Homo sapiens: one gene and its partner. The protein of the gene in region 1 purifies or fractionates together with the protein of each later gene. This does not show direct contact. Each region holds a gene or a part of one and is shown on either strand. Other genes may lie near its edges.

What was found.
Region 2: the proteins of TUB (region 1) and MAK16 purify together in Homo sapiens (affinity purification with mass spectrometry; one large-scale study listed by BioGRID and IntAct). This does not show direct contact.

The regions. Positions count from the first base shown.
Region 1 is NC_000011.10:8,094,711-8,098,210, reverse strand, and holds part of TUB (tubby protein homolog), read right to left. Parts: exon of another isoform or gene 2,714-3,500; coding exon 2,546-2,713; exon of another isoform or gene 1,527-2,545; coding exon 1,405-1,526; exon of another isoform or gene 984-1,404; coding exon 786-983; exon of another isoform or gene 498-785; coding exon 385-497; exon of another isoform or gene 1-384. UniProt on the Homo sapiens protein: Functions in signal transduction from heterotrimeric G protein-coupled receptors. Binds to membranes containing phosphatidylinositol 4,5-bisphosphate. Can bind DNA (in vitro). May contribute to the regulation of transcription in the nucleus.
Region 2 is NC_000008.11:33,491,682-33,495,181, reverse strand, and holds part of MAK16 (protein MAK16 homolog), read right to left. Parts: intron 1-3,500.

The DNA of each region.
Region 1 (3,500 bases):
CCCACCCCCAAGATTGCTGTGTGTCTCTTCCCTCAAGAGCTCACTCTCAGCCCTGTCCCTTGGCATTGACCATGGAGCCAAGGCAACTCTTCCATGGTGGCCTGCGTTATCAGTGACACCCTGGGGTTGGATCCATCACTCTTGGTGGGCCTGCACCCACCTCCTGGGAACAGCTTGGGGTCGGGTGTGTGATTCCCATCTCCAAGTCTGGCTCTAGGCTGGCATAGACATAGGCCTCCAGTTGGATGTGATTATCAGAGAGGATCCTGGGAGAGTATCCATCCCTGGCCTAGATCTCCTTCAGGAAGATTCAGGCCCTCTACAGACAGCTTGCCCCTGCCCCTCCCTCCCACTCCCGCCTGCTTCCTGGGGGAATGCTAGTACCGCAGTTTCCCGATATAGCTGTCCCCTCCTCGAGACAAGTCTGTTGGGTCCACAGAGATGAGGTAATTGGAAGTTTTACTCTTCTTTCTCTTCCTTCCCGCCAGGAGGAACACCTTGGGGAGTGGAATGAGGTCATATTCCAGACTCAGCCTCTGGTCTGCACACAGTCATGAGAGCCACTCACACAGACTCTCTCCGTTGCGTCAGCTCCCAAACGCACATATGTGCACACACACAAATGCACTGGAAAACACAAAGATGTGCACAGACCAGACACGAAGGCAGTTTCTTTGAGGAACTGAGAGGTCAGTGGTAGATATGAGACTTCCAGTCACATTTCAGCCCCTAGGATTTCAAAGGGCTGTAAAGCCTAGATGATAACATGCCCAGACCAACCTTACCTTCTTCCCATCCTCACGGTCCAGGTGCAGAAAGTAGGTGGGGTACATGCCCCGGTCCATCCCTTTCTTGTCCCGAGTGATGCGGCATTTGATGGTGATACCCTGGGGGGCCGGCCTCAGTGCAAACTCCTCAAGATCCTGGACCTCAACGTCCACTGGTTGCTCTGGAGCTGTTGGGCTAGGGGCTGAGGCTGCCTCCTATGGGGATGCAGAATAGGTGCCTGAGCCCCAAGGACCCTAAGCAGCCCAAATTGGTGGTCTGGGATCCAAATCTGCCTCCTAACGTGGCGGTGGGAGAGAGGGAAGGATCCTGGGATTGGGGCCTGGCCAGCCTGGGCCTGGGGTCAGAAGCTATCTTCCCAGCCCTGCCCTCAACAGTTCCTAGAGGTGGAGATGGGAGATACGGGAGGTCCTCAGAGGTCATCCTGTCCAACTGCATCTCCCCCCATACATCACCCTGCTGGCCTAGCTGAAGAGGTTAGGAGGCAAGGTAGAGGGACATAAGAGGCCAGCAGAGAAGCTCCTAAAGGCATACGAGTCCATCTCTTCACATGCAGTCCACCTCTAACGGATGAGCAGTCCTCCAAAAACTGCTGTGGATGCAGACTCACTCACTCACCCTGACGGACTTCCTGCTAGTAGCAGAGCTGGGGCGGGTGTTACTATTTAGCTGGGAGGAGCTGGAGCTATTCTCCTCCTCATCCTCCTCATCCTCGTCAAAGCTCATGCTGCTGGAGATGCCTGGGCCAAGGAGAGAAGAAGAAGGGATGAAGGAGGAGAAGTCTACGCTGCCCCTGAAATACACATGGTCACATACTCATGTTCAGACACTGACTCACCTGTACCCCCACAAACTTATGCACACACTCTTAGCCATATCTACACATATAGACTCCCATTCACACATATATTCCCACACATGTCCAGATATAAAAGGATATTCTCTCAGGTACACACATGAGCCGGGGCTGGCCACAATCCTCAGGATATATCCCCACCACCCAGTTTCAGCTCAGTCCCTACATTACCCCACTACCTAGCAGCCACCCTACCACTGTCTCTTGTGTATCAAGGCCTGCACTGAGCTCACCTTGAACTGGGAATCTCCATTTCTGACCTCAGGCCTATTAGAGGCCTTGGCTGGCATAGACCACGGAATCTGCCAGGGCACAGGCCTCAGCTCCTTCCTCAGCCCAATGTGGAGGGGACCCACTGACTCCTCATCTTTGCCCTGAGCTTCTATCTCAGCTGTCCTCCCGCCTGCCATTCCCTGGGAATGCCATCCCCATCCTCAAGTTGTCTCAAAGTCCTTTGTACAGGAAGCCATCCTTGATTAGATTCCTCACAATGTGTGGCACTGCCAGGCTTCTTCCCTCTGCCACCCTGCACCAGGGGCTCCCTAGGGCAGGGCTTGTGGTGGGAAAACTGAACAGCAGGTTTCCACGGAGGATCTACCCCGTCTCTTGGTATCCTGGCCCTGCTCCCAGTAGCTCAGCAAACATATGGGAAACTTCTTGCAAAAGGAGCTTTTTCTAAGGAGCAAAAGGAAAAGGAAATCTGCCCCCAAATCAGGGCCTCCCTGGGGCCTTAGCAGGGGCCCTGCCTAAGAGTTTCTCATTTGTCTCCGAAGTGTGCCCCACCCTCACCCACCATTGCCAGGGAGGGGTTTGGACACAGGAAGGCCATGCTCCCAGAGAAAGGTGCATCTGAGAACCTGGGACTGAGTTTTGGGGGTATCACTGGGTCCCCATGGGGCTCACCCTTCCTCTGCATCGTGGCACGGAGATCCTGCCCGCTGGGCCGTTCGCCCCCACCAGCTGCCGTCTCCCCTGCGTCCTGGGCGTGGTCTGACTGGCCCACAGTCAGAATCTGCACTGGGCCTTGGGCCTCAGACTTGTCTTCTGCCAGTGCTGCTGGCCCGCTGGTGCCTGCAGGCCACGGACACGCCTGAGTTACATCCAGGAGGAGGAGAGGAGGGCCTGGATTCTCAGACGTCCATGAAGGGGATGAGGGAAGAGTGGGGAAACCCTCTGCAAAACTTTATTTGCAAAAGTGATTTTTATAAAACTAATGATTGCACCAGCCTGTTAACAACTGGTAAGCTAGTAAGGGATGTGGGCTTCATTTCTTCTGCTCTTCCCCCAAATTAATTGCCGAGGGTTGGTTTACAACACCTCACGTCCTTAAAGCAGACGGCAGCCATCTACAAAACCAACTGCACAGTGGAAAAACAAGATGGAGAACAAGGACTGATCCAGACCATAGGCAAGGCCAGCAATCATTCATGGACACGACCAGCTACAAGCCATCAATGCTGGTGTTTTCTTCCACAAACAGACACAACATACACACGTGCAGTAACTCACATACATCATTAAAAACGTGGGCCCCTTGAGAAAGATTGCAATTGGCATACACTCGCCTTCCCAAATGGAGCATCTCCCATCCTACGTCAGCTTTCCTGCCCGTTACCACAGAGCTTCAGCAACAGAAGCAAGGCCTGACCCACACAGGTGGCAGCCACCCTGCCCGCCTACTGAGCTATGCCCAGAGTGCTCGGCCAGCTCCAGAAGCCCATGGCCTGTGACACATCACTGTCCAACCGTGACGCAGTGGCCTGGAAACCACTGTCCGTGAACAAAAGTTGAGGAAACGGGGTGTGTAGCCAAGAGACAGGACCTGGGGCAGGTACCGCCAATCACTGTCCTTAATCTT
Region 2 (3,500 bases), on another chromosome or scaffold:
TTCATTCGTTTACATTTTCTAAAATCATGCTAGATTCCATGTGACAGAATAGGTAAAAATCTCTTCCTCCAGTGATCTCTCATTGGAGATGACACATGACATCAACCTGTACTACCACACAATAGCCCAGGATGGTGCATTAATTTGATAGTGAAAGTCATAGAGGGTTTTAAAGTGTTATATCTGTAAGTTATGTTAGAATGATTACGTAAAACTGTGTAGGGGCACATGGAAAATTAGCCAGGCATGTTAGCGGGCGCCTATAGTCCCAGCTACTCGGGAGGCTGAGGCAGGAGAATGGTGTGAACCCAGGAGGCGGAACTTGCAGTGAGCCGAGATCACGCCACTGCACTCCAGCCTGGGCAACAGAGCAAGACTCCATCTTAAAAAAAAAAAGGGCTACAGCGATGTTCCATGTTGTTCTCTAGAGTGGGGTGTTTACACTTCAAGGGTATCCGCTGAAGTGTAGGAAGAAAATATTCAAAACTTCCACATATCTCTTTTTCCTTAAAAAATTTAACATCATTACTACTTTTCTTGTACACTGACATTGGTGCCTTGACTCTGTCTATAAAGTAAATAGTTGTGTGTCAGATACAGTGAGCCAGATATCTCAAGGGAGGAATACGGCAGATAGGGCTTGCAAGTGGTGGTCTCACTTGTTTATTTAGACGACTATTTAACTGTTTATGTTTGCTTAGTTAAGCGGATTCATAGATGACACTGAATATTCTGCCAAAGATAGAGAGTAGTTATAAAAGTATGCTGGTTATCTAATGGGTTAGTATTTTTAAAAGTTGTAGAACCAGGCTGGCAAGGTGGCTCATGCCTGTAATCCCAGCACTTTGAGAGGTCGAGGTGGGCAGATCACCCGACGTCAGGAGATCAAGACCAGCCTGACAAACGTCGTGAAACCCCGTCTCTACTAAAAACACAAAAAATTAGCCGGGCAGAGTGGTGTATGCCTGTAATCCCAGTTACTCAGGAGGCTGAGGCACAAGAATTGCTTGAACCCAGGAGGTGGAGGTTGCAGTGAGCCGAGATGGCGCCACTGCACTCCAGCCTGGGCGACAGAGCAAAAGCTGTAGAACCTAAAGATGATCCATGCACTTTTCACAAAAAGAAAAATATTCCAAATTTGCCAATCTTTTTATGTAACCCAGTAGACATTTTTAAAAATAAATACGCTTAATCTGTGTCTTCCAAACAAAAGCAACATTTTAATAGTTTGAGGAAGACAATTGTTTTTTGAAAAAAAAAAAACTTGTTCTGTGAAGGTTGTGAAAAGAAAACTGATTATATCTACATATGGCACTGCTGAAAACATGTCTCCTATAAAAATTGCAATCACACACTTTAAAAATGTGGAAACAGAATATTGTAATGCATTTAAAACTCTTCCAAATCTACATTTTTCAGAGGGTTACAAACTCAATTGGTGAAAATAGAAAAAATTAATTTCTTCTGAAAGGTTTGTAGGAACACCTGTTTGACAACTGGAGATGAAAACTCACTAACTGGACTTGAAAAAAAGCCGCTCCATAACTAATGGAGCATAATGAAAAATTAAAGTACTTGAGACCACCTATCAACAATGCACTTCTCTACAATCCCTCAGTTATGTATGACAGCCCTTCAAGACAAAATCATACTCAGCTAAGAAGCAGACTTTTGTTTCACTACATCACAATTAGTTATAATACACATTGTATTATTAGTGGAAGTGTGTATGTATAATAACATTTATAGCCTGTAATCCCAGCACTTTGGGAGGCTAAGGCGGGTGAATCACCTCAGGTTGGGAGTTTGAGACCAGCCTGGCCAATGTGGTGAAACCCCATCTCTACTAAAAATACAAAAATTAGCCGGGTGTGGTGGTGCATGCCTGGAATCCCAGCTACTTGGGAGGCTGAGGCACAAGAATTGCTTGAATCCAGGAGACAGAGGTTGCAGTGAGCCAAAACTGCACCACTGCATTCCAGCCTGAGAAACAGAATGAACCTTTGTCTCAAAATAAAATATTTATAAATAACATTGGGGAATACATGTTCAAAAATTTTACTGAGGTGAGCACAACTTTGCAGACCAATGATACAGATTTTAGATACATAACTGTGATTAATGGGGACAGAAGCATCAAAAGAAAAGCTATCCCTATCAAAATACCAATGACAAATATAAATATAAAAAAAAGAAAAATACCAATGACATTCTTCACAGAAATAGAAAAAAAAATCCTAAAATTGTTATGAAACCACAAAAGATCTAGGATAGCTAAAGCTATCCCAAACAAAACAGCAAAACAAACAAAAAAAAACAACAAAAAAAACACAAAACAAACCTAGAGGAATCACATTACCTAACTTCAAATTATACTATGGACCTATAGCAACCACAACACTATAGTAATGGCATAAGAACAGACACAGAGACCAATGGAACAGAATAGAGAACCCAGAAACAATTCCACACACGTACAGTGAACTCATTTTCGACAAACGTGCCACGAACATACACTAGGGAAAAGACAGTCTCTTCAATAAATGGTGCTGGAAAAACTTGATCTCCATATGCAGAAGAATGAAACTAGACCCCTATCTTGTGCTATATACAAAAATCAAACCAAAATGGATTAAAAAACTAAGACCTCCAACTACAAAACTACAAGAAAACACTGAGAAAACTCCAGGTCATAGATCTGGGCAAAATTTCTTAATATCCCACAAGCAAAGGTAACCAAAGCAAAAATGGACAAATGGGAGCACATCAAGTTAAAAAGCTTCTGCACAGCAAAGGAAACAACAAAGTGAAGAGACAATCCACTGACTGGGCAAACTATCCACCTGACAAGGGATTAATAACCAGAATACAGGCCAGCGCGGTGGCTCACGTCTGTAATCCCAGCACTCTGGGAGGCTGAGGCAGGTAGATCACCTGAGGTCAGGAGTTCGAGACCAGCCTGGCCAACATGGCTAAACCCCATCTCTACTAAAAATACAAAACAAACAGCCAGGCATGGTGGTGCACACCTGGCATCCCAGCTACTTGGGAGGCTGAGGCACAAGAATCGCTTGAACCTGGGAGGCAGAGGTTGCAGTGAGCTGGGATTGCCCCATAGCACTCCAGCCTGGGTGACAGAATGAGACTCCATCTCAAAAACAAAACAAAACAAAATCCAGACTATATAAGGAGCTCAAACAACTCTATAGGAAAAAATTCTAATTATTGGATTAAAAAGTGAATAAAAGGGCCAGACATGGTGGCTCACACCTGTAATCCCAGCACTTTGGGAGGCTGAAGTGGTTGGATTGCTTGAGCCCAGGAGTTCAAGACCAGCATGGGCAACATAGTGAAGCCTCGTCTCTACAAAATATATAAAAATTAGCCAGGCATGGTGGCATGCACCTGTAGTCCCAGCTACTTGGGAGGCTGAGGCATGAGAATCACTTGAATCCAGGAAGCAGAGGTTGCAGTGAGCCAAGATCGCACCACTGCACTCC